Regions from separate parts of the Homo sapiens genome. Here all the other regions are linked to region 3. The links come from fine-mapping of genetic effects on plasma protein levels. Region 3 holds a variant in brackets. A gene starts in each other region. All regions are shown on their forward strands.

Region 1 (9,764 bases), not on the chromosome of region 3:
TCTAGACTCCGCACCGGGGCATGGCCCCCGCCCCAAGTTCTCTCTGCGGCCGCGGCTCCGGCACTCAGCGTGCCCCCGGTGCCCGGGCCGCTCCGGAGCACCCGGCGGGGGCCGCAAACCCCGCGCCCATCCGGGCCGGCCGGCCCGCCCGCGCTAGCTGCGAACTCCGCCGATTCGGGCAAGGTGTACCCAGCCTGCGCTCTTCGTCCGCCCGGGGCACGCCGAGTGCCGCTACCGACACCGGCCGAGGGCAGTGCTGCCGCTGCGCCTGGAAGACAGGCGTTCAGCCCCGCAGCCCGAGCTCGGTGCCGGCAGGCATCTTCCTCTGGGCTCGGAGCGCAAAGCCGTAGACCTCGGGCTGGACGGCGCGGCCGGCCCCGCGCTGGGAGGCCCCAGTGCGCCTCGCTGTCCCCACGCCGCGGCCAGAGAGCGCGCGCGCGCGCGCAGCCTCGGGTTCCGCACGGCTCCTCCGCGCAGCAAGAGTCCCGCCGACCTCGCAGCCGAACAATCAGCCGCTTGCTGTTCGCCTCCCCGCGGCCCAGCCCCGGCCGGTCCCCCAAGCCCCGCCCCCGGCCGCTCGCCCGCACACACCCCCTAGGCTCCGCGCTCCGCGGCCGCCTGCTGGCCCACGTTGGATGCTTTGCAACAGCGCCCCGCCACGCCTCCCCGCCTGCTGCTCATTGGCTGCCGGAGTCCACCGTGGCCAGCCTCGAGGGCCATTGGAGCGCTCGCTGTGATCCCGCCCCTCCCGCTTCACCGGCTACCCCGCCCCCACACTCTTTTCCCACCCAAGGTGTGAAGGGCGGGAGACTGGGAGGAGAAAGGGAGGGACGGCCCCCGCCTCTTAAAGGAGACACGCAGGTTGTTGTTGGAGAACGGGAACGCGGGCTGGGGAAAGGAGGCGTGAAGATACGCCCTCTGCGTCAAGAAGGGGAGAGAAAGTTAAGAGGGTAAAACGCCCCCGTTTTGGGGCTGTCTGGCCCCAAGGCTTTTTACGTCCTCCTCAGGCTGCAAGCAGGACTGCAGATTAGAAGCAAACCCGCGTCCGTTTTCCAGGTTCCTTCCAAAAGCGAAGACACAGGTTTAAAACTTAACACATTTCTTCCTGACTGGGACATCCTTGGTTATTTCATTAGGCGTGGTCCCCTTCCTCCTCGAGCAGCCTGGAGCATCTGCTCCTGACTTGTTCTTCACGTCCTAAATCCAGCAATATGTCCTTGATTACTAAAATGAATGTGTGCTGCAGAAACCTAGTCTCAAAGGTGCACCCTCGGCCAGGAGTGGTGGCTCACGCCTGTAATCCCAGCAGTTTGGCAGGCCAAGGCGGGCGGATCACCTGAGGTCAGGAATTCGAGACCAGCCTGGCCAACATGGTAAAACCCCGTCTGTACTAAAAATGAAAAATAAAAAAATTAGCCAGGTGTGGTGGTGCACACCTGTAATACCAGCTACGGGAGGCTGGGACAGGAGAGCTGCTTGAACCCCGGAGGCGGAGGCTGCAATGAGCAGAGACTTGTCACTGAATTGTCACTGAATTCCAGCCTGGGTGACAGAGCGAAACTCCGTCTCAAAAAAAAAAAAAAGTGCACTCTCCTTCCCAGCTAGTGAGTTGAAGGGTACTTCTAGAAATGCTGCAGCCTTTGATAAAGGGGTTGCTTTGTTGTTGTCATTGGGTTTTTGTTTTAATCAGAGTCTTTTTAAGATAATTTTCAAGAAGCCATTGTGTATTCGTAAGAGACAGAGTTAAAGGAGAAATAATAGTTAACAAAGCTTCTAACTTTTGCTCTTAAAGATCAGACCATAGTAGTAGTGTGTTACGATAGTACGTGGTAACATTAAGCAGACATACACACATTGAGAAAAAAAGAAAAAGATTACCACTGTAACATATAGCTGCCCTCTGGGCGTTTTGGTTTGCTAGTGTCTCATATCCCTTCCCAAGAGTATGCAAATTACTAACATAACTGCGCACATTGTCAGGAAGATTAAGCAGGTCAAGTCTGTTGAAAAACATTTGCTCCAGAACATTAAATCTGAGTTGTGTTTTATGGAAGTGGGGTGGGGTGGGAGGTAAAGAGGAGAAGTTGAACCTTAGGGAAAAAAGGCAAAAAAAAAAAAAAAATTAAAGGGTTTATTCCATTTTCGACACAATCTAAGAGGTTTGCTTTAATTGAGATGCACTAAATGTGTTAAACTTTCCCTCAGCCATAAGATCACCTCTTTTCTTTAGCCAAAATGTGATCTTCCTATCCCTTCCTCCCCTTTTTCCTTCTTCCCCTTCTGAATTCATTGCGCCTCATTTTTTTCTTGTTTAATTTTGCATGATCTCAGCAGTGATGCCCAAAGCAGTGCTCAAATATGTGGGTAAATCAATTCAAATCTAATTCCCAAGAAATATTATCAGAAAAATGCTGCACCTGACCCATCCCACCCAGAGCTTTAACCAGCTTTTATGTTTCATATGTAATCCAAATAAACATACACCTTCCATCTGGACGAGAAGAAATATGTCCTTTTGTTCTATCCCTTTTGGTAAATATAATAATAATAAGCAGTGGGAATGGAATTAAAAAGACCCTAAATTTATGAAGTCCTCTCAGTCAGTGTTTAAGTTTTACACAAAGAACACAAAACAGTAATTTGATGCAGAATACCCACAGCCGTTTCCTGAAATGAAACTGTCAGATCCTCCCTGTCCCCACCCCACAATAAAACAGCATATGCAGCAAAAAATGAATTGAACTGATTGAACTACTTGAGATGCTGACCTAAAATTATCTTTCAGGTTTGTCTCATTTCTAGTACTATAAAAGTGGGTAATTCTTGTAAAATGTTTTTTCAAATGTGTATGGGTGTACTTGTGAGATGCCTTTTTGGAATCTTAGTTTTCTGGAGGATAGAATTTAAGAATCTGCAAGGTGAGGGAGTGCCCACAAATCTAAAGCATCCCTTGTGGTCTGGTTACCATGCAGCCAGAGAAAAGGATTCCAAAGCCGGGGCACACTTGGGGGGACAGGGCGCCTAAGCCTTGGCAGTTCCTCTCGTCTACAGCAAAGCATGAAGTCATGTCTGCTCCCCATACCATGTATGGAAGTTTGCCCACATACTAGCAACCTGCTTGTGATTGCAATGAGAGTGTGAACTTGGAGAGCAGTGATATCCAGCTCAGGGGGGAATTCATCTGCAGCCACCACCTAAGATGAAGGAGATCTCAACAACAACAACAGCAAATGTCTAAGGGAATCTATGTCTCTGCTCATAAAAGTGCAAGTCTTGGTCCATTCAGCACAGAGCAACAGTTGATTTGGGTGCTGTAGGTCCTTATTTTCCTCACACTGCAACTTTGATCTTTCTAAATGCTTATTCCTTAAATGAGTCATCCGGGGATTTTAGATTTTCCAGTTCATTTTCATCTACCCCAGGGATAGCATGGAATCAAACCCCAGTGAGAATCTCTGCAGGTCTCTCTTGACTCCAGAAGCCCTAGCAGTTAATCATCCTAAGTTAATCATGCTTGAGAGAGGAACCCAAAATCTAAATAGCCTGAAATCTATTGGGGAGAGAAGCAAATAACAAAATAACAAGAAAGAAGGTTAACCATAGGAATTTTTTTTTTTAACACAACTTCCTGGGGACTGAATTTGTGCCAGTTTGCTATAGTTCTAGGTGGTGGTCTTTAGTGGTTTTAAAGAATGCTGAGATTCAGAGGGGCTTTCTTAATGTTAGGTGAGATTTTACACTGTGTTCAATACATTAAAAAAGCACCAGGTCACCATTCAGGAGAGCTGGGTTCCAGCCAGGCCTTGTTATGGGTGAAACCTTTGACCAGTCATTTTCTGTCTTGGAGCCTCAGTTTTCTCAAATAGAAAACAAGGGGCTGGGCACGGTGGCTCACGCCTGTGATCCCAGCACTTTGGGAGGCCGAGGTGGGGGGATCACCTGAGATCAGGAGTTCAAGACCAGCCTGGCCAACATGGTGAAACCTCATCTCTACTAAAAATACAAAAATTAGCCGGGTATGGTGGCACACACCTATAGTCCCAGCTACTTGGGAGGCTAAGGCAGGAGAATCGCTTGAACCCGGGAGGCGGAGGTTGCAGTGAGTCGAGATCGCACCATTGCACTCCAGCCTGGGTGACAAGAGCAAAACTCCATCTCAAAAAAAATATATATATAAAAGAAAAATAGAAAACAAGGATAATGGTACTTGACCTGGGTGCTGAGTGAGTAAAGAAGGATCATTTTGATAAAGGACCAAAGGGGCATTATAAACTGTTTACATCTCATTGTTTTCAAGGTGTTATTGATTTGTTAACTCTGAAAAACTGAGAGCCCATATGTATAATGTAGATGGAAAATCTTAGCAGGTTGTTTCAGCAGGAAAGTTTCTTGTCCAGGAATGTGACAAAGGGTTAATAATTAGCTATGAAACCCCTGAAGACTTGCAGGGTGATGACAGCCCTGCTTTGAGCCTGTTTTCTATCTCTCTTCCAAGGAAAATAAAACTGTGTACTCATTAACTCCTTCGTCGCAATAATCTTGTCAAGGAGATGGATGGGTGGAGAAGGTAAGAGAGGAGGCTAATGAGTCTGGGAATAGAATATAAAAAGAGAAAGATTTTGAGATCTCCCCATCCCCCATTCCAACATTTGCCTTTGGTGGAGGTAGTTTTCTTGTGCAATCTCTGGCTATTGGAATATTGGTTAATGCCCAGACAGTGCCAAGCTGCAGCTGCTGCAGTTCCACAGCAAGAATGGTTGTTGCCTGCAGCTCAGCTGTGACCCTTCACAGGATCTGCCCTCCTCCACAGAGCACCATCGACAGGGGCCAAAAACCTTTAGAGTCCACTTTCTAACACAAACTAGAACCTTGACACTTGTCCTTGCCTTGTGAATGTGAAATGTTTACTGGTTCACTGAAAGGATGAAAAAAAATATGTCAAAGGTATGAGCATTTCATAATTCTGAGATTGAGATTCTGGAGTAATGGTCATTGTAGGAGGCAGTCCCTTACCTCTGACGGTGATGATGATGGGATGGACTAATTACATCATCACCAGAGACCGCACCTCTCACTCCCAATCTGCTGCCTTTGCAAATGTCACTCCGAGAAGTACATGAGGGCGAGTGCAGGGAGGATTCAAAGTTTATGCCTCACTGCCAACCACTCAGAACTAACACTGCAATGTATATAAAGAACAGCACATTGATCATAACATAATAATAATCTTATGAAGTCATATACCTTACATTTTTCAAAGCACTGTCACATCATAACAACAGCTATCATTTACGGAGCACTTTTTATATGTCTTTCATGTTGTTGAGTGCTTTATGTACTTTTTTCAGTGAGGTAGGAGCTAAGAAAAACGTTTAAGGCCACACAAGCTAATAAGTGACAGGGCCAAGATTCCAAACCAGTTCTGTGGACACCAAAGATCTATTTTGGGCTGGGCACGGTGGCTCAATTCCTGTAATCCCAGCACTTTGAAAGGCCAAGATGGGTGGATCACTTGAAGTCAGGAGTTCGAGACAAGCCTGACCAACATGGTGAAATCCCTTCTCTACTAAAAAGAAAAATATTAGCTGGGCATGGTGGTGCATGCCTGTAGTCCCAGCTACTCAGGAGTCTGAGGCAGGAGGATCACCTGAGCCCAGGAGGCAGAGGTTGCGGTGAGCCGAGATCGAGCCACTGCATTCCAGCCTGGGTGACAGAGCAAGACCCTGTCTCAAAAACAAAGAAACAAAAAACCCCAAAGATCTATTTTGACATTTGAGCCTCCTAAACTTTGAATATGAAAATTGTTATTGTTCCCACTTTACAGATGAGAAAGCTGAGGTTCAGTGATTGTCCCAAGGTCACGCGGCATCAGGAATAAATAGAATCTTAAATCACAAGTTTCATCACAACCACCAGCACACATATTTTATATTCAGTGAATGTCTTACGAAGTGTATCATGGAGCTTCTTTCTCAGGGATGCCATGAGAATGGATGTGATTTCTTTACTTTTTCATATTTACTAATAGATTTTCAAAGTTCCCTCTATGATTAATAAGTTAAAATTTTAAAGGATAAATATCTAGACTTTTCTCTCCCCCCATACCCAGCAGTACTTGTATAACAACAGTGGTTAACATTACTGATCACTTACTATGTGCTAGGCATTATTTCACATCATGGCTTAATTTCACTGAAGAATTCTATGAGATACCTTAGAGATTGTCATCTTACATATGAAGTTACTGAAACTCTGAAATCAATCCCCTTGCCCACATTATACCCTAATTAGGTGCTGAGCAGGAAGAGGCTCACAGCTAACCTACCCCAATCACACTCCCTCTCTTATCATTCTCACTTTTGATTATTTTTCCTGTTTATCTCTTCCTCCAGTCTAGTAGCTCAGTAAGTTAAAAGTAAGTTAAAAGACTGAGTCTAAATCCCTTCTTGGTATTCCTGTTGTCTAACACAATTCCAGGCACATGGTAGGCACAGAGACAATATTTGCTGAGTGAGTCCTGCCTGCCCTGCAAGGAGGGAGAATTATCAAGCCTCTTTCCTCCCCCATTTTATTTTATACATGCTTGCTATTCACATATGTGTGCTGACCACATCAATATTACCTGGAGCTTCTCAGAAATGTGAACCTTAAGGCTGGGCACAGTGGCTCATGCCTGTAATCCCAGCATTTTGGGAGGCCAAGGTGGGCGGATCACCTGAGGTCAGGAGTTCGAGACCAGCTTGGCCAACATGGTGAAACCCTGTCTGTACTAAAAATACAAAAATTAGCCGGGCATGGTGGCATGCGCCTGTAGTCCCATCTACTCGGGAGGCTGAGGCAGGAGAATCGCTTGAACCAGGGAGGCAGAGGTAGCAGTGAGCTGAGATCACACTATTACACTCCAGCCTTGGTGACAAAGTGAGATTCTGTCTCAAAAAAAAAAAAAAAAAGTAATTTCAAAAATAAAGACAAGCATGTGGCTGACATTATTGCACCTAAATTGAAGCGCATGCAAAACATCTGCTGCCCATGAGATTTTGGTAAAATCCTCTCGTGCCATTCAATTCTCTTTTCCTTCACCATGCATTCAGACTAATAAAAAGCATTTGCAAATTTTATAGCCTGTTATATTTGTTTCCAAAAGGACAGTTGGGTTTATGACACATTTCAAATTTATTATAAACCTACAGACAGACACATATTATATGCTTTTCACTGTCATTCTTATCCATGAGCTACATTCTTTAGATAATCATTTAAATATCCTTATTTCCCTGGGGGAGCTTGACACTCCTCTTGGATTTAGATGCTATAAATCAAAGAAAAGTCTTTGTCTTTTCCGCAACTCTTTCTTATTTGAAGTGCCTTGACTGGTTACTATTTGGAGAAGGCAGCTGTATAGAATAATTGTCTGCCGACGGCCACTAGCAGTTTCTCCCCTCAAGAGGCAAAGTCTATTTTCTCTCCCTCTTAAATCTGGATTGGCCTTGTGCCTCGCTCTGACTGATAGAATGCAGTGAGAGTGACGCTCTTACCAGTTCTGGGCCTGGCAGCTTTGTCTCTCACCCACTTCCTACCTGGAGCTGTCATGTAAGGAAGTCCAGGCTGCCCTCCTAGAAATAGAGGCCCTGGAGGAGAAGAGACCATGGAGAGAGAGAGGCAACGTGCAAGAAAACTGGGTGGCCCAGCCAACAGCCAGCATCATAACCCCAGACATGAGAGTGAACTCATTTTGGACCTTTTAGCACAGACCAGCTAAATGCAACTGCACAAATGAGCCTCGCCAACATCACATGAGCAGGGCTAAGCCATCCCCAAGGGTCTTTCCCAAATTCCTGACCCGCAAAATCATGACCAATAAAAAAAGCTCTTGTTTTAAGCCACTAAATTTTGGGGTGACTTGTTATGCAGCCATAGATAACTGAGATAACAAGTGTGGCTAAGTGAGCATGCAATAAAACGTGAGTGGATTTTGGGGGAGGAATAAAATCTAATCAAATAAACCCGTCATCAGGAGTGTCAAAAAAATTAGTGTTATCAGCTGACCTTCCTGACGTGTTTGTCAGGGCCCTTGATTGAACGCAACAGGCTAACTGGCTGATGCCATCGAACAAAACTTCTTAGATAATAAATATTCTGGTTCTTCAGCAGGCCACAAAACAGGTTCCCTTCCACTTCTCTTAGAAACAGGTATGAGAGAAATGCAGAGGATCTGCTTATTTATAAAAGGTATGTTCTCTTATGTAACCCCATGGCATCCAGGTAAAATAACTGATTGAGAGGATGAAATAATTGAAGATCTATTCTTCCCGAAAAGATCAGATAAGGCTTAACGTGTTTACTCCATTTTTCATATGGGACAAATAAATGAATATTTTAAAATGGAATCCTAGCCATAAAACTGACACTGAGATACAGAGTTTGGGGGTATGCTTTGGTAGCGGGTGACAGTGGTGGGGATTATATCTCTTAGCTGTGTGCTAACCTTTAAGTTCTGCAAAGCATAGCTTACTGCCTCCTTATATATTGTCTTGCACTCTTCTCCAGCTCTCATTTCTTAGAAGCCATCACTGTTAAGCAGTGCTGCTTACAAAATCAAGTTAGCTAAGTCCCTGCCATCAGAGAGTTTATAATCTGATGGTATTGTTGACTGCTAGGTCCCCAGGATCTAGAACAGTGCCTGACAAATAGCAGGCATTCAATACATATTACTGAACGAATACATGATCAAATGAATGAACGGTTTTCTGTATGCAAACCTCATTTTCCAGTCAAGGCTATAAGCAGCTCACAGGAAGCAGGCCCCAGAGCCACAGACTATTGGAAGACAAAGGGATTTCGTGTCTTTGAGTGCAGTAGGTCAGGGTGAAGCCTGCCGGATCATCAGATCTGCCAGGTCAGAAACTTCTAGTGACCAACCACCCAGGTTTGGAACTCAGGGGTTTCCCAGGTCATGGGACTTCAAGTGCTAAAATAGGAAAGTTCTGGAAAAATCAGGACAAATTGGCCACCCTAATTGTAATTCTAGTTTCTAAATGCACACTTAGAACCTTTTGCATGCCGTATAGCTAAGCTATATGAGAACCTACTACAGTATGCACCAGGGAATAACTTGAGTGGTTCAAATGCATCAACTCATTTGATCCTCCCTACAGCCCTATGAGGCAGAACTATTAAAATCTTTTCTTTCTATAAAATAGAACACTGAGGTGCAGAAGGAAGTAATCTGCTGAAGATCACACAGCTAGGAAATTAGACTCCAGAGCTCACACTTTATTATTATTATTGTTATTATTATTGAGACAGGGTCTTGCTCTGTATCCCAGGTTGGAGTGCAGTGGTGCAATGTCAGCCCACTGCAAACTCCACCTCCCAGGCTCAAGCAATCCTCCCATCTCAGCCTCCCGAGTAGCTGGACTACAGGTGTGTGCCACCATGCCCAGCTAAGTTTTTGTATTTTTAGTAGCAACATGGTTTCTCCATGTTAGCCAGGCTGGTCTCGAACTCCTGAGCTCATGCGATCTTCCAGCCTCAGCCTCCCAAAGTGCTGGAATTACAGGCATAAGCCACTGCACCTGGCCCAGAACTCACACTTTAAACCAGCACTCTCGTATACTTTATTATAGTAGATTCCCAGCTCCTTCTCAAAATTTGTTTTAAACCTCATTCTTTTATTTGTATTCATAACACCTTTCACAGTTTCCAGTTATTTTTAGATTTTGTCAGCCCATTTTGTATCTGACTCTTTCTAATAGTAGGGCTGG
Region 2 (10,587 bases), not on the chromosome of region 3:
GCACCACCACACCCGGCTAATTTTGTATTTTTAGTAGAGACAGGGTTTCTCCATGTTGGTCAGGCTGGTCTTGAACTCCTGATCTCAGATGATCCACCCACCTCTGCCTCCCAAAGTGCTGGGATTACAGGCGTGAGCCACTGCACCTGGCTGCATTTTTATATTCTCTCAATCTCATTGCAGTGCCCATCAGGACTTCAGCAGGTGTTTTTGGTACCACAGTGCAGGACTGGAGGTTGTAATTCCACTGACCAGAATCTAAGCATGGCCCATCTTTTACTTTCAGTTTGGCTATTAGAGATAAAAGTCTATAGGGATTGTATATTTGCTTTTCTTCTTCTTAGTATACATTTCCCTATGCACATGAGTCAACTCCCCAAAAGTTAGTGATCAATCACCTCTAATTTCCATTGGTAACTTTTACCTCCAGTAACTGATTGCAGCATGACTGCTCTTCACACCATGGGTGACCCTGTATCCACTCGAGAATGAAAGGTTTCTCATCCCCTGCCCTTTCAACTTTTCTTTTCCCAACCCATATGTTTCAGTGAGTCAGGGTCATTCTAGTAAATCCACATTTTCTGACACCAACTGCAATACTGCAATTTAATCCTGGCACTAACCATCGGGAGTTAGTGCAGAATCCACACTCAGGTTAAGGGCACGGTCCTGAGTGAGACGGCCTCACTTCTGACACCAGCCACAAGTTCAGGGGTCCCCAGGCCACCTGCACTTATTACCAAGTGGCTACAAATGTAGGGGTTCCCATAACCCTTTCAGATTTGATAATTTGCTAGAACAACTCACAGGACTCAGAAAAGCTTACGGTTATGCTTAGGGCTATAGTTTTATTATAAGAATACAAGCCAGGATCAGCCAAATGAAGGGGTGCATGGGGCAAGGTCTAGGGGGGCCCTGAATGTAGAGCTTCTGTGTCCTTTCCCCATGGAACCAGGACGTTTCCCCTCCTGGCTCATCAATGTGTTCACCAACCAGGACTTGGTATTTATTTGTTTTATTTGTTTGTTTGTTGAGACAGGGTCTCACTCTGTCACCTAGGCTGGAGTGCAGTGGTGCAATCTCAACTCACTGCAACCTCCACCTCCCAGGTCAATGATTCTCACGTCTTAGCCTCCTCAATAGCTGGGATTACAGGCATGCACCACCACACCCTGCTAATTTTTGGCATTTTTGGTAGAGACAGGGTTTCACCATGTTGGCCAGGCTGCTCTCAAATGCCTGGCCTCAAGTGATCCATCCACCTCGGCCTCCCAAAGTGTTGGGATTACAGGCATGAGCCACTGTGCCCAGCCTACTTACCAGGACTTTGAAGTCCAGAGTTTTTATTGGGGTTTCATGACATACGCATGATTGATTGAATCATTGATCATGTAATTGAACTCCATCTCCAGCCCCTTCTCCTCCCTGAAGGTTGAGAAGTTGGGCTGATATCATGTGGACCAAAACCCCAACCCTCTACACACATGCTTGGCCTTTCTGGCACGGCCTGCCTTCATGTGGAGTCGTCTTGTTAGCAGAAGCTGTCTAGGGACCCACCATAAGTCACCTCATTAACAAAAGCTACCAAGAGCCTGGGAAACATGGCAAAACCCCATCTCTACAAAAAATACAAAAATTAGCCAGGCATGGTGGCACACACCTAGTCCTAGCTATTCAGGAGGCCAAGGTGGGAGGATCACCTAAGCCCAGAGAGATTGAGGCTGCAGTGAGCCATGACTGCACCACTGCACTCCAGCCTGGGTGACAGAGTGAGACCCTGTCTCAAAAAGCAATCAGGCCAGGTGCAGTGACTCATGCCTGTAATCCCAGCACTTTGGGAGGCCAAGGTGGGTGGATTGCTTGAGGTCAGGAGTTTAAGACCAGCTGGCCAACATGGTGAAACCCCGTCTCTACTAAAAATACAAAAATTAGCCAGGCGTGGTGGTGCGTGCCTATAGTCCCAGCTACTTGGGAGGCTGAGGCAGGAGAATCACTTGAACCCTGGGGGCAGAGGTTGCATTGAGCCAAAATGCTCACCACTGCACTGCCAGCCTGGGCAACAGAGCTAGATTGCTGTCTCAAAAAAAAAAAGAAAGAAAAAAACAACAACAAAAAAACACTAATCAGGGACCACTATTAATAACAGACATTCCTATCACTTGGGAGATTCCAAGGAGCTTAGAGGTTACTTTGGAGGAACCCAAGACAAAAATGAAACTAATTCCTCATTATACAAGAAGTGGCTTATACATGAAAGGATTGACTCAGCAGGTCTGCTGTGTTCAAACCCTGCACATTTCAGAGAAAATTCTGGCCTGTGACCAGCCCTGAGAGATGAGATTTAAATTACCAAAATATGCTGCCTGATAAGTCTTTGTTTTTCTGGGGCCTTGGGCCATGCCAGATATTTGATGCTAATAATGTGATTTGTGGCAGGGGCCTTTGGCCGCCCAGTATCAGTTTGAACTCTGGAGAGTGAGTAACTGAGGTCAGCCACACAGGTAGTCCACGCTTTCATCACTGACCTCCAATAAAAACACTGGACACCAAGACTCAGGTGAGCTTTTGTGATTGGCAATACTTCATGCGTGCTGTCACATGTTATTGCTGGAAAAATCAAGTCCTGTCCATATAAATCCACTGGGAGAGGAAAAACTGGAAGATTGAGATTATTTTCTCCTGGACTTGGCCCTAGAATATTTCACCTTTGATGGCTTTAACATGTATCTTTTCACTGTAAGAAACCATAATCAAGGCTGGGCACGGTGGTTCATGCCTGTAATCCCAGCACTTTGGGAGGCTGAGGCAGGCGGATCACAAGGACAAGAGATTGAGACCATTCTTGCCAACATGGCAACACCTCTGTCTCTACTAAAAATACAAAAATTAGCTGGGCGTGGTGGCAGGTGCCTGTAGTCCCAGCTACTGGGGAGGCTGAGGCAGGAGAATCGCTTGAACCCAGAAGGTGGAGGTTGCAGCGAGCCGAGATTGCACCACTGCACTCCAACCTGGCGACAGAGCGAGACTCTGTCTCAAAAAAAGAAAAAAAATGAAACCATAATCATGGTATAACCATTTGGAAGTGTTAGTGAATCACTGGCCTGAGGTTGGTCTTAGGGAACACCAGTAAAGTCATCTTCCCCTACATTTGGCAAACAGCCTAATGCTTGACAAAGCACTGGACCACCCAGCCTCTCTGAAGTCCTCATTACAATTGCTCAGGACAAAACCTATTAATTATCCCAGGTACACTTTTCCCCTTTATATTCCACAATTGTCATGGGCAAGCACTGTCAACTCTCCCTGTAACACACACCCTCTATTGAACCCCTTGTCTCTGTCTCTAGTCTAACCACTGGAACCCAAGCCCAAACCTTGTTGCCTGGAGCCCCGCTCTCCCCGGACCTGTTCCCACTCTGCCCCAATCACACAGGCCTTCGTCCCAATCCCTGAACAGTGCGTCAGGGCCTCTGCATGGCCCTTTCCATGCCTGGACTGTCCTCTCCCAGATCAGCTCAGCAATGGTTCCTGCCACAATTCTGCTTACACATCACCTCCTCAGAGACACCGTCCCTCCCCATCCTCTCTAACACACCCTCTGCTCACCCACACCAGCGGGCCCTAACTTCTCTCTACTTCAAACTGTGCTTCTGTTACTGTTTTGCTTCTATTATTATTATTATTATTATTTGAGATAGAGTTTTGCTCTTGTTGCCCCGACTGGAGTGCAATGGCATGATCTTGGCTCACTGCAACCTCCACATCCCAAGTTCAAGCGACTCTCCTGCCTCAGCCTCCCGAGTAGCTGGGATTACAGGCGTGCGCCACCATGCCCGGCTAATTTTGTATTTTTCATAGAGATGGGGTTTCACCATGTTGGCCAGGCTGGTCTCGAACTCCTGACCTCAGATGATAGCTCCCACCTTGGCCTCCCAAAGTGCTGGGATTACAGGCATGAGCCACCGTGCCCAGCTGTTTTTCTTCTATTATTATTGTTCTTGCAGGAGCTGGTAAAGTGGCTGATGTGGCCACAGCTCCATAAATCCATGTGGAACGAAGGGTGGACATCGCCTGAGTCCAGGAGACAGGACAGGGTCACTCATCTCTGTCCCTGGTGATGGAAACTCAGGCTCAGGAAAGAGCCTTGACCTGCCCTGGGTCACAGAGAGAATATGAGGGTCAGGGCTCAAGCCCAAGTGCTGTCTTCAGGCCCTTAGGCTGCCTCTCACACCCAGACTAGGAAGCTGGAGCAGAAAGTTTGCTAGAACAATCCTGAGAAGAGGCCTGCACAGTTCAAGGGGCAGCTTGGAGGAGGAGAGGAAGGGAGGGCGGGCTCTGGCCAGCAGGCTCTTGGACCTCAGGCCAGGCTCTGGCAGCTGCGTCTGGTATCAGGACTGCAGGTCCCGACAGGGGGCGGTGGCTCACGCTTGTATTCCCAGCACAGTCGCCAAGCCTAATGTCCCTTCCAACGGTGGAAAATTTTGGTAAAAATCAATGACAGGCTGGGCGTGGTGGTGCATGCCTGTGATTCCAGCTACTCAGGAGGCTGAGGCACGAGAATCTCTCGAACCCGGGAGGTCTAGGCTGCAGTGAGTGGAGATGGTGCCACTGTACTCCATCTGGACGACCGAGCAAGACTCTAACAACAACAACAAAAAAAACGGACTGCAGGTGCAGTGCCCAGCACAGAGCCTGCTACATAGGAATTCTCATTTTCTTCTCTTCCCTACTCTTTCCTTCCTTTATAATCTCTTCCTTTCCCTCTGAAGTACCGACCCCAGAGCTTGAGATCTCATCCCAGCCTCCCTCTTATTGCCATCCTCCCCTGCTGCCTTCCCCACACCCCTACCTCTCACAGGGTGGGGGTAGGGCCTCCTGGGACCCCAGTCCCAGCCCCAGCAGCAGTAGCAGGCACAGCTCCCAGGTCCTCCCTGGCATGGTGGCTGTGACTGTGACTGAATGAGCAAGCCCAGGCACCTTCGGCTTGCTGGGCACAGCCTGGCTCACCTGCCTGTCCAAGTCGGCCAAAGTCCAGCCTTTGAGGCGTGGCCACCTGAGGGGACGTGTGCTTGGTCTGTGTGTGGCCCGCTTGCCCCTCCTGCTCTCAGGGCACAGTGGCCACCTCCCTTGCTTCTACTTTGCCTCTTCTATTTCACAGTCTCAGCTGGTGCCAATGGCTCAGGCCCTTCCCTCAGAGCATGGTGGTGGGGGTGGGGAGTGGGCACCCAAAGGCCAGGGACACAGTCGAGGCCACACACCTGTAACCTGGATGCCAGGTTCCTTGGGTGGCCCCAAGACCACCAACCTCAGAGAGTTACCATTTCCCTTAACATTTCAAATGGAATGGCTCAAGATCCTGTCCCTGGTGTGGTGTGAAATTCAGGGCCTCTCACTGTTATCTGCAAGAGATACAGCGGAAGCACAGGACAGTAGAACCATTCTGTCTGGGGAGGACTAAGGGAGACCCACAATAGTGTGTCATTTGTAATGAGTCTTTTTTTTTTTTTTTTTGAGACTGAGTCTCACTCTGTCGCTAGGCTGGAGTGCAGTGGCGTGATCTCAGCTCACTGCCACCTCCGCCTCCCGGGTTCAAGCAATTCTCCTGCCTCAGCATCCTGAATAGCTGGGACTACAGGTGCCCGCCACCACGCCCAGCTAATTTTTGTATTTTTAGTAGAGACGGGGTTTCACTGTGTTGGCCAGGATGGTCTCAATCTCTTGACCTCATGATCTGCTCGCCTTGGCCTCCCAAAGTGCTGGGATTACAGGCGTGAGCCACTGCGCCAGTCCTAATGAGTCTTGATGACCGCATAGGAGTTTGCCAAGGGAAATGGGCTGGAGACCACTACAATGTATGCAGAGCATGTGAAGAGAAGAGCAAACCCCTCAGCCTAGCTGCAGAGAACTTGGTGTTCATGCAGGGAAGGGTTTTGAGATAGACTGGAGGAACATGTTGGCACCAGTCTGGAAATGGTCTTTGCCAAGCCAAGGAATGTAATTCCTTGTAATTCCCCAAAGTGGAACCAGCAGAGAAGTTTGTGAGCTTAAGAAGCAGATTCAGGCTGGGTGCAGTGGCTCATGCCTGTAATCCCACCACTTTGGGAGGCCGAGGCGGGTGGATCACCTGAGGTCAGGAGTTCAAGACCAGCCTGGCCAACATGGTGAAACCCCGTCTCTACAAAAATACAAAAATTAGCTGGGCATGATGGCGGGTACCTGTAATCCCAGCTCCTCAGGAGGCTGAGGTGGGAGAATCGCTTGAACTCGGGAGACAGAGGTTGTAGTGAGCCGAGATCATGCCACTGCACTCCAGCCTGGGCGACAGAGTAAGTCTCTGTCTCAAAAAAAAAAAAAAAAAAAAAAAAGCAGATTCGGTTACTTTAGGAGGCTCATCCCCTCAACATATGGAAGGTGAGCTGAAGGGACAGGGGACAGGGGGTGGGCAAGGCACATGGAGTTTAATGATAGGCATGACCTCTCCTGAAGGACTTAGGTTTGCAGTTAAGGATGTCAGTTGTGGCACCTGAGCAGTGTTTACTGCTATTAAAAAGAAAAACCTTAGACAAATTAAATTTAACCATTTATTCAAGCAAAGAAATGACTCATGAATCAGGCACCACTCTGAACTAGTAAAGGTTCAGATAGCTCCACCCAGTAATGTGGGCAGCTGGCATTGTTTTTTTTGTTTGCTTTGTTTTTTGAGACAGGGTCTCGCTCTGTTGCCCAGGCTGGCATGCAGTGGCTCCATCACAGCTCACTGCAGCCTTGATCTCTCAGGTTTAAGGGATTCTCCCACCTCAGCCTCCTGAGCAGCTGGGACCACAGGCACATGCCACCACGCCCAACTAATTTTTAAATTAAAAATAATTTTTTTTTTTTTAGAGATTGGGTCTCCCTATGTTGTCCAGGCTGGTGTGGAACTCCTGAGCTCAAGCAATCCTCCTGCCTCATCCTCCCAATGTATTGGGATTACAGGTGTGAGCCACCATGCCTGGTCAACAATTTTTAAGTGTACAATTCAATTTCCTTTTATTACATTCACAATGCTGTGCAACCACCCTTGCATTCTTTGGATAAATCTCACTTGGTCATGATGTCTAATCCTTTTAATAAACTGTTGGTTTTGGCTTGCGAGTATTTTTTTGAGGAATTTTGCATCAATATGTATAGAGCATATTTGACTGTAATTTTCTTTCCTTGTTTTGTTTTGTTTTTTTTTTTTTTTGGACACATAGTCTTGCTCCATCACCCAGCAGGCTGGAATACAGTGGCATGAACACAGCTCACCACAACCTCGACTTCCTGGGGCTCAAGTGGTCATCTGGCCTCAACCTTCTGAGTAGCCAGGACTACAGGTGCATGCCACCACGCCTGGGTAATTTTTAAATTTTTTTGTAGAGACTACATCTGACTGTGTCGCCCAGGCTGGTCTTGAACTCCTGGCCTCAAGTGATCCTCCCGCCTTGGCCTCCCAAAGTGTTTCTCCCCAAGTGTGAGCCACCATGCCCAGCCCTCTTGTGATGTCTTTATCTGGTTTTAATATCAGGGTAATGTTAGCCTCATAGCATGAGTTAGGAAATATGCCCCTCTTCTATTTGTGGAAGTGTTTGAGAAGGATTGTTAATTCTTTAAATGTTTGGTAGAATTTACCAATGAAGCCATCTGGTCCTGGACCGTATTAGGCAGAAACAATACATATATGGGGGATGGGGGTAGAGAGAGAGAGTTTGAGAGGTAGCTGGCAAGTCCAAAATCTCTAGGGTAGGCTGGCAGGCTGGAGAAACAGGGAAGAAGCTGCAGTTCAAGTCTGAAGGCAGCATGCTGAGAGAATTCCTTCTTCTTCTGGGGAGGTCAGTCTTTTTCAAATTAAAGTCTTCAACTGATTGGATAAGGCCCATCCAAGTTAGGGAGGGTAACCTGCTTTACTCAAAGTCTACAAATTTAAATGTTATTTTCATCTAAAAAATATCTTCACAGAAACATCTAGAATAATGCTTGACCAACTATCTGGATACCTTTGCCTAGCCATGTTGACACATAAAATTAAACATCTTTTTTTTTTTTTTTGAGATGGAGTCTCGCTGTGTTGCCCAGGCTGGAGTGCAGTGGCATGATCTTGGCTCACTGCAACCTCTGCCTCCTAGGTTTAAGCGATTCTCCTGCCTCAGCCTCGTGAATAGCTGGGATTACAGGCGCCCACCACCACACCCAGCTACTTTTTGTATTTTTAGTAGAGATGGGTTTTCACCGTGTTAGCCAGGCTGGTCTCGAACTCCTGGCCTCAGGTGATCCACCCGCCTTGGCCTCCCAAAGTGCTAGGATTACAGGCATGAGCCAACGTGCCCAGCCAATGTTCTTTAAAAAAACACATGACTCTACAGTGATTGTACTAACTTACATTCTCACCAACAGTATATGAGGGTTCCTTTTCTCCACATCCTCACCAGCATTTGTTATTGCCTGTCTTTTGGATAAAAGCCATTTTAACCGTAGTGAGATAATATCTCATTGTAGTTCTGATTTGCATGTCTCTGATGATCAGTTATGTAGCGCACCTTTTCATATACCTGTTTGCGACTTGTATGTCTTCTTTTAAGCAAGGTTTATAGTGATTCAGATCTTCTGCCCATTATGCAGACTGGCTTTGTTCTGGGGGAACACCTCATTATATTGCGCAGGCTGGTCTCAAACTCCTGGGCTCAAGCAATCCTCCCACCTTGGCCTCTCAAAGTGCTAGGATTACAGGTATGAGCCACCATGCCCAGCCAGTAGTGTTTTTTTTTTTTTTTTTTGAGACGAAGTCTTGCTCTATCACCCAGGCTGGAGTGCAATGGCATGATCTTGGCTCACTGCAACCTCCGCCTCCTGGATTCGAGTGATTCTCCTGCCTCAGCCTCCTGAGTAACTGGGACTACAGGCGCCCACCACCACACCCGGCTAATTTTTGTATTTTTAGTAGAGATGGGGTTTCACCATATTGGCCAGGCTGTTCTTGAACTCCTGACCTCATGATCCACCCACCTCAGCCTCCCAAAGTTCTGGGATTACCGGCATGAGCCACCACGCCCGGCCTCCAGCAGTTCTTTTTTTAGTATTATATGTTTACAACTAACCAAGTCTACTCAAATAACACTACATTTCATGGTAGTGCAAGTACCTTATGATAACAAAGTAGTCTTAACTTCTCCCTCCTGTCCCTTCTATCATTGCTGTCATTCAGTTCCCTTATCCATAAACTAGAATCGTTGAATACACAGTTGCTATTACAGATTGAGCACCCCAAATCTGATAACCCAAAATCTGAAATGCTCCAAAATCCAAAACTTGTTGAGTACAGACATAATGATCAAAGGAAATGCTCACTGAAGCATTTCAGATTTTGGATGATCAGATTTGGGATTTTGAACCAGTAAGTATATTGCAAATATTTCAAAATTCAAAAAAAAAAAATCCAAAATCCAAAATTCTCCTGGTATCAAGCATTTTGGATAAATGCCCTGTTTTATTTTGAACAAACCATTATCTGTTAGATTAACTAAGGATAAGAAAAGTAAAAGCTTTTATTTTACCTTCACTTATTCCTTCTCTAAAGCTCTTCCCTTGTTTATGTAGTTCAAAGTTTCTAACTTATATCATCTTTCTTTTCTCTGAAGAAGTTTTTTTTTTTTTAAATACTTCTTGCAAGACAGGTCTACAGATTCTCTCAATTTTTGTTGGCTTGTGAAAGTTCTCATTTCTCCATCACTTTTTTTTTCCTTTTTTTCTTTTTCTTTTCTTTCTTTTCTTTTCTTTTTTTTTTTTTTTTTTTAAGACAGATTCTTGCTCTGTTGCCCAGGCTGGAGTGCAGTGGTGCTATCTCGGCTCACTGCAATCTCCGCCTCTCAGGTTCCAGTGATCCTCCAGCCTCAGCCCCCCAAAGTAGCTGGGACCACAGGCATGTGCCACCACTAAAGTTTGTATTTTTTTTGTAGAGACGGGGTTTCACCATGTTGCCTAGGCTGGTCCCAAACTCCTGAGCTCAAAGCCATCTGCCTGCCTCGGCCTCCCAAAGGGCTGGGATTACAGGCATGAGCCACTGTGCTGGCCTCTCCATCACTTTTGAAGGATGGTTTTGCAGGAAAGAGATTCTAGGGATTATAGGTTGGTGGGGTCTTCTTCTCTGTCAATGCTTTAAATATCTCACATGGCTCTCTTCTTCCTTGCATGGTTTCTAAGAAGTCTGGTGTTATTTTTATCCTTGGTCCTCCATAGGTAAGGTTTTTTTTACTCCTCTGCCCTCTTCCAAGACTTTTTATCTTTGAATTTCTGCAATTTGAATATAATATGCCTAGGTGTTGATTTTTTCTTCTTTTTGGGGGGCATCTGTCTTCCTTAGTATTTTCTGAGCTTCCTGGATCTGTGGTTTGGTGTCTGATACAAATTTGGGGAAATTCTCATTCATTATTGTTTCAAATGTATCTTCAGTTCCCTCTTTCTTGCTCTGTATTCCCATTAATGCATATGTGATGACTTTTGTCATTGTCCCACAGTTTTGGATATTCTGTTCTGTCTGTTTCAGTCTTGCCTCTCTTTGCTTTTGAGTTTTGG
Region 3 (10,587 bases):
TTAAATGGCATGTAGCTTATAGCAAATGCAAATGTGTAAGTCCAACAGCCATAAAGCAGCCTTCTCTGACTAAGTGTGGCTGCCAACTTCTCAGTGCATTTTTTAAATGCTGATTCATGGCTTAAGACACTTGATTGGGAGGAAGGTGTCTCAGCTCCTATTATAAAAGCACAAAGGTGGTACCTGAATTACCTAGCACACAATAGGCACTTAAGTATTTGCTGAAACAAATTTATTTACTTATTTTCACCCACTGTTCTACAGAAGATTTGAAGTGAGATGAACAAATAAAAAGAAGGAGAAAAAAAACCTTTCCAACAACCGAAAAATGAAAATAACATTCTGTGAAAAAGAGAATACTTCTCATGTGGTGAAAAAAAATCACACTTCTGGGTGGCGCAGTTTGTAAAACGGTTGGCTTCAATAACTGATCTGAAACTTAACCACAAGTCTTCACTTCTGAACCACTGCCTTATTTCTATGATAGAAAGGTTTAAACAGCAGTTTTTCCTTGCTTTTTATTTTTTTTCTTCTTTTTCATGAAACGCTGCAATTTCATCTTTCTAATAGGAACACGTAAGCACTATTATCCTTTACAAGCCTGGTGATTATTTGTCATTATTATTACCCTGGTTATTCTAGCTCAGATCAGCTTTGACTTCTTCAGCAATGCAAAATTCATATAAACGTGCATTCTTATACCTCTGTGTAGCACCAGGAACAAATAACATTTAAGCAAATAGGAAGATCTATATTCATTCCTCAGATTCCGACACAGAAATCAGATTGTTTTACCATTGTTTCACACTTGTTATAACACCAAAATCCAAATCCACAATCCACTTGTATTATCTATTTATCCTAAAAAATATGCAAATGAATGCTTGTCGCTACCTCATGCAGAGTTTCTGACATATCCTCTATCTTATTTTTTAGGCAAACTGTATATACTTAAGTGAACCAAATGATCTAACCATAAATCTTCAGAAACCAAGGGGTTAATAGTTTTTTTCATCCATGTTTAAAATTGTTTTATTACCCCCCAAAAGCTACTGTAGTTTACTTTTTTACTAAATGTTTATCATTTTTGAAAAAGAAAAGCTCTAGATTTAAAAAGGGGAAACGCTGAATTTAGCTCATCAAATGACGACCTCTTTTTAAAAGATATTCAAGGGTTGGGAATTAGAATGGAGTTTGAAACTTAAAAAAATACGAGGATTACTAAAAATGTCATAACAATTGTTGACTCACAAACCAAATTTCACTTAAATTTAATATTGAGCCAAACAGCAAATAAATCAGCTTTAAGTTAAAAATTTTTTTTCCTTTACTTCCTGCCAAGCAAACTTTTAAAATTCAGTATCCCTTCCACAGTTACATTTCTGATAACCATGAAGAACAACGAGTTAAACTTTTGAATCTGGAATAGAAATGTCTCATTCCAATTAAGAAAATAACTACAACCTTTGACCTTCCCACTAGCCTGATGGGAAATTCACTGGCACCATTATGGGTTTAGCCGTCCATGTGCAAGTAACCACTAGAGGGCAGCCTTATCTCATATCTGACATGCGGCAGAAAAATACCTGAAATGCTTCTAATGTTCCTTTAATTATTTTTGTAGTATCTTTGATTTTCCTGGATACTTAATAATCAACTTCAAATGGAACTAAAAGTATTCCTAAACAGTTCAAAAGTCCACTTTCACAAACAATGATATCACAAAGACTGGTGGTGAGAGGTGCTAGAGATACAGCTAGCTGATGTTATCTTTAAAATTTTAAAACAAAAGTTTTTCATCTTTAAGTCATGGCTGCCTCTTTACTATGTGCTGGGTTAAGTGCCAAGTCAATTATATCACAACTGGCACTTGGGGTCCATCTTTGGCATTAAAATTTCAAGTGGTTCTAGGCAAACTGAAGTGTGTTTGAGGAAGAAACTGACCAAGATTGTGGGAAGGCAGAACCACACTTACAGCAAAAAGGACTGGAGAGGGACAGCAGATATTACGTATTAGAGGGGTGTGTGTGTGTGTGTGCGTGTGCATGTGTGTGTTACAGTACTAGTCTTCAAATGACTTACAGTCTTTCATTTGAAAGATGGATTAAATGTGTTCTGCACAGCCCCAAAGGAAAGGATCAGAATTAAGGGATTAAAAGTACAAAGGAGAGAGTTATGCTTGATATAAAAAGACTTTTCTAATTCAAGATGGAGTAACCTACCTTTAAAGATAGTGAGTTCCCCATCGTTGGAGGTGTTCCAGCATAACCAGATAACTACTTGGCAGAAATATTGTGGGCAGGGTCCAAATCCCAGTGAGACATTCATCTGAGTGACTTTAAAGGTTTCGTCTGAGACTGAAATAATCCTTATTTGCTTTCAGACAAACACACCTTAATCCAGCAGTCATTAAGGCCATTCCCCACTAAGTGAGAAATGAGATTTTTCAGATCTACTTGAAAACTTTTAGACTTCACGTGATTTTCTAAAAGACAAACGATTTCTCAAGAATAGATCTACAATCATGCCCCTAAGCTGTCATGAAAACAAACACGACAGCACTCACAAGCACGAGAATTCGTAAGCTTTATACTACACAAAGTCATATTAAAATTAGAAGATGCATTTGTGAATGTTCCCTTTGCCTAAGGATAAGTGGAACATATAGATATATCTCTCAATTCTATCATAATGGCGATTGGTTACACAGGTTAGCTGTACTTCATGGTATTCTGTATTCTTGGGGAAAATAATGCTTATATTTCACTCATATCCTCTTAAAACAAGCAGACTTAATGAAAATCATGGTTGAAGAGAGCTAATGATAAGCAAATAAGAATAACCCCATTTGTACCAAACTGATTTTATTAAATAGTAATTTAAAGATATTAGGCTCAGCAAAGCATTACATAATTGGATCTATTTTTTTCCCATATAAATGCCAGAGTTATAATTTCCACTAACTAGAGACAAAGTTATATCCAGGACGTTTTTCACAGCTTCCTCCAGGGGAGGCATGAAGATAGAAATTAGGGTTGTAGTTCTTGTTTCACGTTATCAGATGGAAAAGCTAGGCTATAACGCAACCTCTGTGAGCCTCAGTTTCTTCATCAGTCACTGATGGGACTATCAGTGACTCTCTATGGAGGATTAAATGATGTAAGAGTGTTTGTAAACCATAAAGCACAAAATAAATATAGATTAGCATCATCTCCCTATTTGTTTATGAAATGCCTAGTAAACTTCAGAAGCAGTAACATTTTAAAAAATGAAATAACTGGAAAACCTAGGGAATAATCTTGACATTATTTTTTATACCCACAGGAGCAAAGATTTTTAAAGTTATCGTATTATCTCCTGAAAATATGATGAGGGCTAACAAATTTCATTCCAAAAAGAAAATCCAGAAACAAAAGATTTCAGCTGCTTCCTTGCATTTTGCCCATTGGATAGTATATGCTATTATCCATCTATTTAGACCTCCTATCTCTTGACAATTAACAGAAAAATCATGTTCTATCATGTCACACAAAATACTGACGGATAGAAAAAGCTCTGACTACGACTCTCTCAGTTCATGAATCAAAAGGTTGGGATGGAAGGGAGTTATCTTCAGTAGAATAGCTAGATGGGGGAGACAGAACTTGTAAATCATTCCTCAGAGGGTCTGTATGTGGTCTTTGAGATACTATCAAATGTCAATTCACACCTGACTTGTCACTGGTGGATGGCTCCAAAAAAACTGTTTTTTAAGTAGAGAAACATAAAAGTGGTGTAGCTGCTGACTCTGAGTGTCTAATTATGGCTTTAAAATTATTAAATATGAAATACATAAAGGCAGCCTTGATTTCTTACTAATAAGTGCTGTAAATAGTAAAAATGAATGCAGAAAACATTTCCATGACAGAGTATTCTTAGGAAATTTGTTCCACATAAGGGGTTTTGTTGATCCCTATAATAATTTAAGAGATTTTTAAGAAAACTGAACCCTACATCTACCTCTGCAAATCTATTCATCCATCCATCCATCCATCCATCCATCCATCCAGTAACTTTTCTCCAGTAAGTGGCCATTTATAAATATTATTTTCCTAGATACCCCAGAGCAAATAAGAAAGTGGTTGGGTGCTATTGTAGGTGCTTTGCAATTATCACCTTGCTGATCTCATCCACTTTTATTGTGTCTCACTTGAGTGGGAGGGAAAGATAGGAGAAAAAGGAGACTAATGAGAATTATTAATATATTTACAAGTGTATCTACTACATATTAAAGAGCTAAGGTTTAGATGACATACTGTATATTTCTAAATGACTATTTCTGTTTAGAAATTACATTATTTCATGACTGGGCAGCATTAAATAAATTATATGGTTCTCAATTCAAATCGTGGGCAAAAGGGTTTACTTGTGCATGCTGCTGCTTTGTATCTCAAGTAACGTGATTGAAATATATAAAATCAAGAGGCTGCCCATGAAAATGGTGCTTTTAAAATACTCTCTACTTCATGGAGGGTCCAGGCTTCTCCCTCCTCCCATGGACAAATGGATTCAGAAATCCTCTTTGTCTTTAAAAGAACTGATCCCTTCTTGCCAGATAAGCATTCTGCTCAGTAGTGGCAACCATTTGGGTTTTCTCTTTTCAAGATCCAGCCATCACCTTCTCCCAATCCTTCCCATCACAAGTAACAAAAATGGTACAAAAATCCCAGTGAAGGGATACCAGGCAATGGGTCCTTACAGTGAGATCAGAGATCGAATTCTAATTTCATTTCGTAGAAAGAAAGGCCAAGTTCTTCAAAACTACAGAATCGTATTTATTACAGTTGGACATACTACCAACACATACAGTATTTTCAAAGTGGTGAGGAGTCTTGCATTTGCACATGAATCAGGCCGGACGAAGAATCTACGGGCCAGAAATTCCCTTTAAGCCTCCCTGTGCTCTTATAACTCCATTTGCACAAACACAGGCTGAGCACTCATATGAAGCAAAGGGGTATATCATCTACTGAAACTGATGAACGTCTTACATTTCCTTTCAGTACTCCGCTGCCGCGTGACATCTGGCCAATGCACTTTTATGATGAGCAGAACAAGTGCTCCCCCGATTATAAATGTTATAGCTGGCTCTCTCCCTTTGCCCAAGAAGCAATCCAAATGGTATTGGAATTTTGTTGTTAATTAAACAAAAGCAAAATTGAAGGATGAGACTAGAGTTACTCAAATGAAGATTTATTACATTTGAGCATGAAACTAAGCCTAAACTTATTTGACAACTAATGCAGAGGAAGGATTTTCTTCTTTGGTGAGTTCAAAGGGCCTGATTTACTGATGTTTAAAAAACATCAGTAAATCAGCCAACAAAGAGAATCTTTCTTTTATGGTGGCTTGTTCTCTCCTCCCTTGTCCACATGCATCCACATACCAAAAAGCTATATTGTAAACAGTATTTCTGTTTTGCACGAAAAATCTAGTTATACAAACTGTCTTACACATGGAACCAATTTAACTATTAAAACTGAGAAGCAATAGGGAAGTATTTAATAAGATTCTAAGCCAGTTTTTTCCTCTAAATCTGATATGGAAACATTTACAGCATTCCTCACTTCCCCACAAACTATTTTCTCTTTCAGCTTAAGTTTGCACCAAAGCAAGATAATCCCATTAAAATTCAGGATATTATGATATTGGGAGTGAAATATTCTAATTGTTCAGATGCATTCTCTCTCCCTCTTCCTCTATCTCTCTCTCTCTCTCTCTCTCTCTTTCAGGCAGCTGAGTTTATAGAAAAATTGCATTGCCAGTACTTCTGAGGCACTTTTTTCAAAGCACAATACTATGAAACTATTATTTTATGGCAGACAGAGGTCACTCCAAGTGTGGGGGTAGCGTGTGTGATTCTTATTATTCTATTAGCAAGGGACAGTATGGAACTTCACTTTGTAGAATTACAAAAGCAAAAGCCTATGTACTAGGAAACATCAACTTTAAATCAAAATATTAAAACGTACTTTCCTTTTTTTTGGTGGGTCGTTACTGTTCATTAGGGGAGAAAGCAGTTTAAAATGTCTCAGCCTCTCGCCTTTCCTCCAATCAACACAAAGTATATTAGACAAAGTGGATAAAGACTGGCATTGACATCTTCCAAATAGCAAAATCAATTTTATAATTTAAAGACAAAAAATGCTTTAACTGCAGAGGGCATTTAAGACGTTTCACACTTACAGGGCTAATGAAATGCAGGACTAGCATAAAAGTTTTTTGGGGGGGTGGGGGAGAATAGATTTTTTAACATAAGAAGTCGATAAGAAATCTTAATAATTTTTCCTCCCAAATAATTTTAAGTGCTTAAGAGCGCGGATCACGGGAGGTTTCCTCTCTTTTACTTATATGAATTACATATTCTAAAAATGATTAAATCCCATTCCCCTCAAGCCACAGGGGAAAAGAGAAAATTTGCTGTGGGCACATTATATAGAAAGATTTCATCTCAAGCAGCTCATCTTAACGTCCAGTACGTTTCGGCCTGTTAATAATTAATAAAAGAGATGCCACCCAATCTCTAGTGAAGAAAGGCAAAGCTCGGTGATCCGAAAGTAAACCCAGCGCAGATACCGAACTGGTGTCCTTCATTCCAGATTGCAACA[C/A]AACCCCAAACTAGCAAACGTTTAACAGGCGCTTGGCACCCGCACCGGTGGCTAGGACCCGCAGGACAGTCTGGGTCTGCACAATTGCTGCGCATTAGGGAAGCCGCGTCCGCCGCAAACAGATGGGGCTCTAAATCCCCAAGCCTGGCGGCCGGGCCTGCGAAGCAGCTCGGGCAGATTATCCACGGCGAGGAACCTGCGGGCGCACAAGCGGGCGGCGGGCGGCGGGCGGCGTGCTGCGGGCTGAGTTTCTCCGGAGCTGTTTGCAACCGTCCCAAGAGCGAGTCTCGGTTTCTCCGGCAGCACGGGCGACTTCCTGAACACCTCCAAACTTTAGCTTTCCCATCAGAAAGTTCCCTGACTTGCCACGGTTTCTCTCCTTCTCACCTGAGAGGACCTAGAGCCAGTCCTCCCTCCAACCAAATCCCCCTCCCCTCCCGCCCCCGGCCCGGCTACGGAGTCCTGATGAGGGCGGAAGGCCGGGCCGCCCGGCAGGATTGGCCGCGACTAACCCGCGCCCGTCGGCCCTCACCACGGTCTAACCTCCGCCCCTGCCCGCGGATCCCGTGGGCTGCCGAGTTCCTCCCCACCTCCATCCACCAGCCAAAGTGTCAAGCGGGGTGCGCCGCGGCTCCCTGGGCCGCCCAGAGCGTCTTGGCACGCTCGAGGCGCCCGTCTCGCTCCGGCCCGCGCGCTTTCGGAAGTGGCCGCGGCGGGACACAGCGCGGGACACAGCGCGGACCTGCGGCACTTGCCCGGCCGGCGGCCGCTGAGGCGCTCGGGGACGCAGGGGCAGGGCGCAAGGCCTGGGGCGCTGACCAGTCCCCGGGGATGACATCGCGACAACGCGCACGCACGGCCCTGCCCGGCCGCGGCGCCTCCCCGACCTAGGCCGGAGCTGTCCCGGGTGCGGGCCCTGGGGACCGGCCGCGGGCGTCCCCGGCTTCCTCTGAACTCCGCAGACCCTCCCCTTCCTTTCCGAAGCGCGGCGACTCCCGGCAAACTTTCTTTTGGGAGACCCGCCCGGTGCCAAGCGGACCCAAGAGACTGACAGGAGCCGGAGGGGGCAGCAGAGGGGGATCCACCCCGTGCGCCTTTGCCCCCCAATCGGAGGCAGGCCGATCCCGTGGCCGGGCTCAGGTGGCGCCGCGGCGGTGGCCCAGAAGGCCCTGGCAGGGCCCCCGCGCCGAGCCCCGGGCAGTACGTGCGTTCGGGCAGGCGCGCCCACCCCTCCCCCTGCGCGCCCTCCTCCCCGCCCCCCGGAGCCGCCAGCCCACCCGGCCCCGGCGGGGCGCCCGGGCTCACCTTTCATCGCTGCGATCACAAAATACATCATTTAAGCCGCGGTGCGGAGAGCGCAGGGAGAGCGGATGGTCCGACCCCGGAGCCCCCTCTGCCGCCGCCGCGCCGCCGCCGCCCGAGCCACAGCAGCAGCTGCCGCAGCTGCCCGCCCGCCGAGAGCCATCCCGAGCCATAAGAGGCTCCATGTGACCGGCTGACATCACGGCCGCCGCTCTGTTTACACCGCGCCCCTCCGCTTCCTCCCGGGGCGGGAGGCGGGAGGCGGGAGGCGGGAGGCAGGCGCGCCCCAGCGCCGCGCCCCGCCCCGCCCCCGCGGGCAGGTGAGTAGCAGCGGCGGCTCTGCTGGCCCACCCCGGCCGGGCCTGCCCTCCCGCGCCCCGGGCCCTCGCCCGGGCGCCCGCCTTCCCCTCGCCTTCGGGATCACCTGTGGCCGCCGGTCGCTTTTCTGCACGCAGCGCCCCGCGGAACGCGCCTCTGACCACTTTCTGCCCCCACTCGGTGGGGCAAGAGGCTCGCAACCCGACGCCACTCTCCCGCTGGCTTGCCGGAGCACTCGGGGGCGATAAATGCGCCAGCTCGTTGGTGGAAAAGACAGGTTTGGTCTGGGGAGCTACGGTCACCCGCATTTCCTAGAGTGCCCCAGCTCTAATCGGAAGGTACGGCCCACTTCTGGGCCGTGGAGAACGAAGCCACTGGGACCGTCCGGGGAGTGGAGTAAGCTCCTCCGAAGTCTTTCTGGAGAGACTCGGCCTGGGCGGGGGAACTCCGCCCACCCAACCCTTGGCAACCCTTGGATATTGGCAGTTATACCAATAACCAAGGTCCTGGTCTACACCTGTCCCCCCCAACCCCCTTCCCCGCGTCCAAGACCACTGATACCTGCAAGGAAAGCCGGAAATTGTATGTGAATCACCTAAATGAACTCCAGTTGCCAGCTGATTTGAGCCGCTAAATTCCCAGGCTCTTCCATATCTCTCCAGAGAACCCATCTACAAGTAGGAAAAGCTATCGTTTTCATACCCTAAAAATGAAACACTGTGGTAATTCTGACAGAAAATAAAGACCTCTGAAGGTGAACTTTGTACATTTTAACATGCGACTAAGACTTAATTCCCTCTAAACTTTGAAGCTTAATTCTTCTTACTGTCCTTACGGAACTGTAAATCATGACGTTATTATTTTACAGGTCAATCTCTTTACAATGAATTTCAGATGCTACATACCCAGAGTCTGCATTGTTTAAAACTTTGGTCAGGGTGTCTATAGTACCGAGCATAACAGAAAAAAATTCTGAAAAGCCAAGTTTGCGTACCTATTGCGGTTCCTTCACGAAATTTCATTCTGCTTGCTTTTCTGTTGGTCTGTTGCCACGCACAACTTAAAATATCAGATGGCTATTAGCTGTTGCATTCATGATGATTAAGCAAGGATAATTCTAGCATATTTTTTTCTCCATGTAAGTGAGTTGCTCTTGCCCCTGAGTTGGGCCACAATTTAAAACACAAGCAAATAATCAGCACCGTAGAAAACAAGGATTCATACACTCCCTCCCCAGCCCCCTTTCAAGGCAAAATTGAGTCTTCCAAACATTTATACAGCGCTCTGATTTAGAAGGTCAATAAAGTTCGTTGTCCTTCAGTCAAGCCATGGCTTTATAAAAGTTTGATTTCAGATAAATTCATTCTAATACAGCTTTTTTTCTTAAAGATTTTTCCCCCAAAAAAAACTACAAAGAAAAGAAATTATAAAAATGTGAACCCAAGACCTACCCATGTTAACTCAGCTGTCCAGCCATAGCAAAGTGGACAAGAGTTTCAAATGAATCAGCCATACCCACTGTAATGTTTACAATTATGAAATTAAATCACACCACGTTCCTATGATGCAACTATATCTCCCAATGAGGCAACGCCCCTCAGTTACACTGACACCATCATTCACATTTGGTTATTGATTTCCCTTGTGCTAACGACTAATGCCAAGCTATCCTATAAGCAGGTCCCAGGTACAATTTTCTTTCTTTTGTATCGTTAAAGGATGGAAAACCATCGGAGACTGCATCCTCGGAAGTATGTTCTTCCCTACTCAATGCAAGTGAACCCAGATATACAACTCGGATGATTCACAATGCTACTTTAAAACAGTATCCTGCTTTAGAAAACAATGTTTTCAAAAGAACCAAATCTATTAGCTCTAGCGTGCCTTGTGAGACATCTGACTCCAAGGTGAATAATCTGACATCACTAGTAATCAGTATTTATTTCCAGATCATTTCAAATGAAATCAGTCATTGGGAACAACATGTAACATGACATCTGCTCCTGCAGTTATAAGTAGAATCATTCATTCTATAGATATGTCCCCAATAGAAATATAATCTCAAGTACTTATCTGAAATATTTACACATTTATTCAACAAAGACATTTCCAGAATAATGTAATACTGACCTTGCCCTTTGGAGATGTACTTCATTCACTTCCTACAACTAATGAGCAACAGAATTTCAGATATGAAGTCCTAACCTTCCAATGTAGCTAGATGCTATTTGTAATACATGCCTCTATTAAATGTCTTCAGCTTTTAACCCAGGTTATATTACTGTTCTTTATATTAACACAAAGCTCTTTGAGAGTAAAA

Alleles and levels. Alleles are on the strand shown, and positions count from the first base shown. The strength of an association depends on the size of the effect and on how common the allele is.
For the plasma level of the protein whose gene starts at base 521 in region 1, allele A in region 3 goes with a higher level than allele C (weak association).
In carriers of allele C in region 3, the plasma level of the protein whose gene starts at base 4,961 in region 2 tends to be lower than with A alone (weak association).

Evidence for each region. A credible set is the group of variants that fine-mapping cannot tell apart. PIP is the chance, under the fine-mapping model, that this variant and not a neighbour inherited with it causes the effect. Protein levels are from antibody-based Olink assays in UK Biobank. Linkage for the fine-mapping came from a reference panel and not from the study's own genotypes, which makes the PIPs less certain.
Region 1: it holds the start of LRIG1, and the variant in region 3 is the best candidate, but not a certain one, in a credible set for the plasma level of the LRIG1 protein (UK Biobank, PIP 0.53).
Region 2: it holds the start of TREH, and the variant in region 3 is the best candidate, but not a certain one, in a credible set for the plasma level of the TREH protein (UK Biobank, PIP 0.75).

The regions. Positions count from the first base shown.
Region 1 is chr3:66,500,502-66,510,265 of GRCh38, forward strand. It overlaps LRIG1 (leucine rich repeats and immunoglobulin like domains 1), which reads right to left and starts at 521. Exons shown (of 19, transcript NM_015541.3): 1 at 1-521. RefSeq lists enhancers at 1-117, 118-618 and silencers at 1-30, 71-210, 231-890.
Region 2 is chr11:118,674,690-118,685,276 of GRCh38, forward strand. TREH (trehalase) reads right to left here and starts at 4,961. Exons shown (of 15, transcript NM_007180.3): 1 at 4,850-4,961. The coding sequence starts at 4,938. RefSeq lists enhancers at 4,191-4,852, 4,853-5,512.
Region 3 is chr15:60,584,435-60,595,021 of GRCh38, forward strand. The region is part of intron 2 of RORA (RAR related orphan receptor A); the gene reads right to left. The region is part of intron 3 of RORA-AS1 (RORA antisense RNA 1); the gene reads left to right. Among named protein-coding and RNA genes, the nearest start is that of RORA-AS2, 92 kb to the right of the region's middle. RefSeq lists an enhancer at 605-654 and silencers at 7,240-7,359, 7,390-8,439. The variant C/A (reference allele first, on the strand shown) is at 6,648.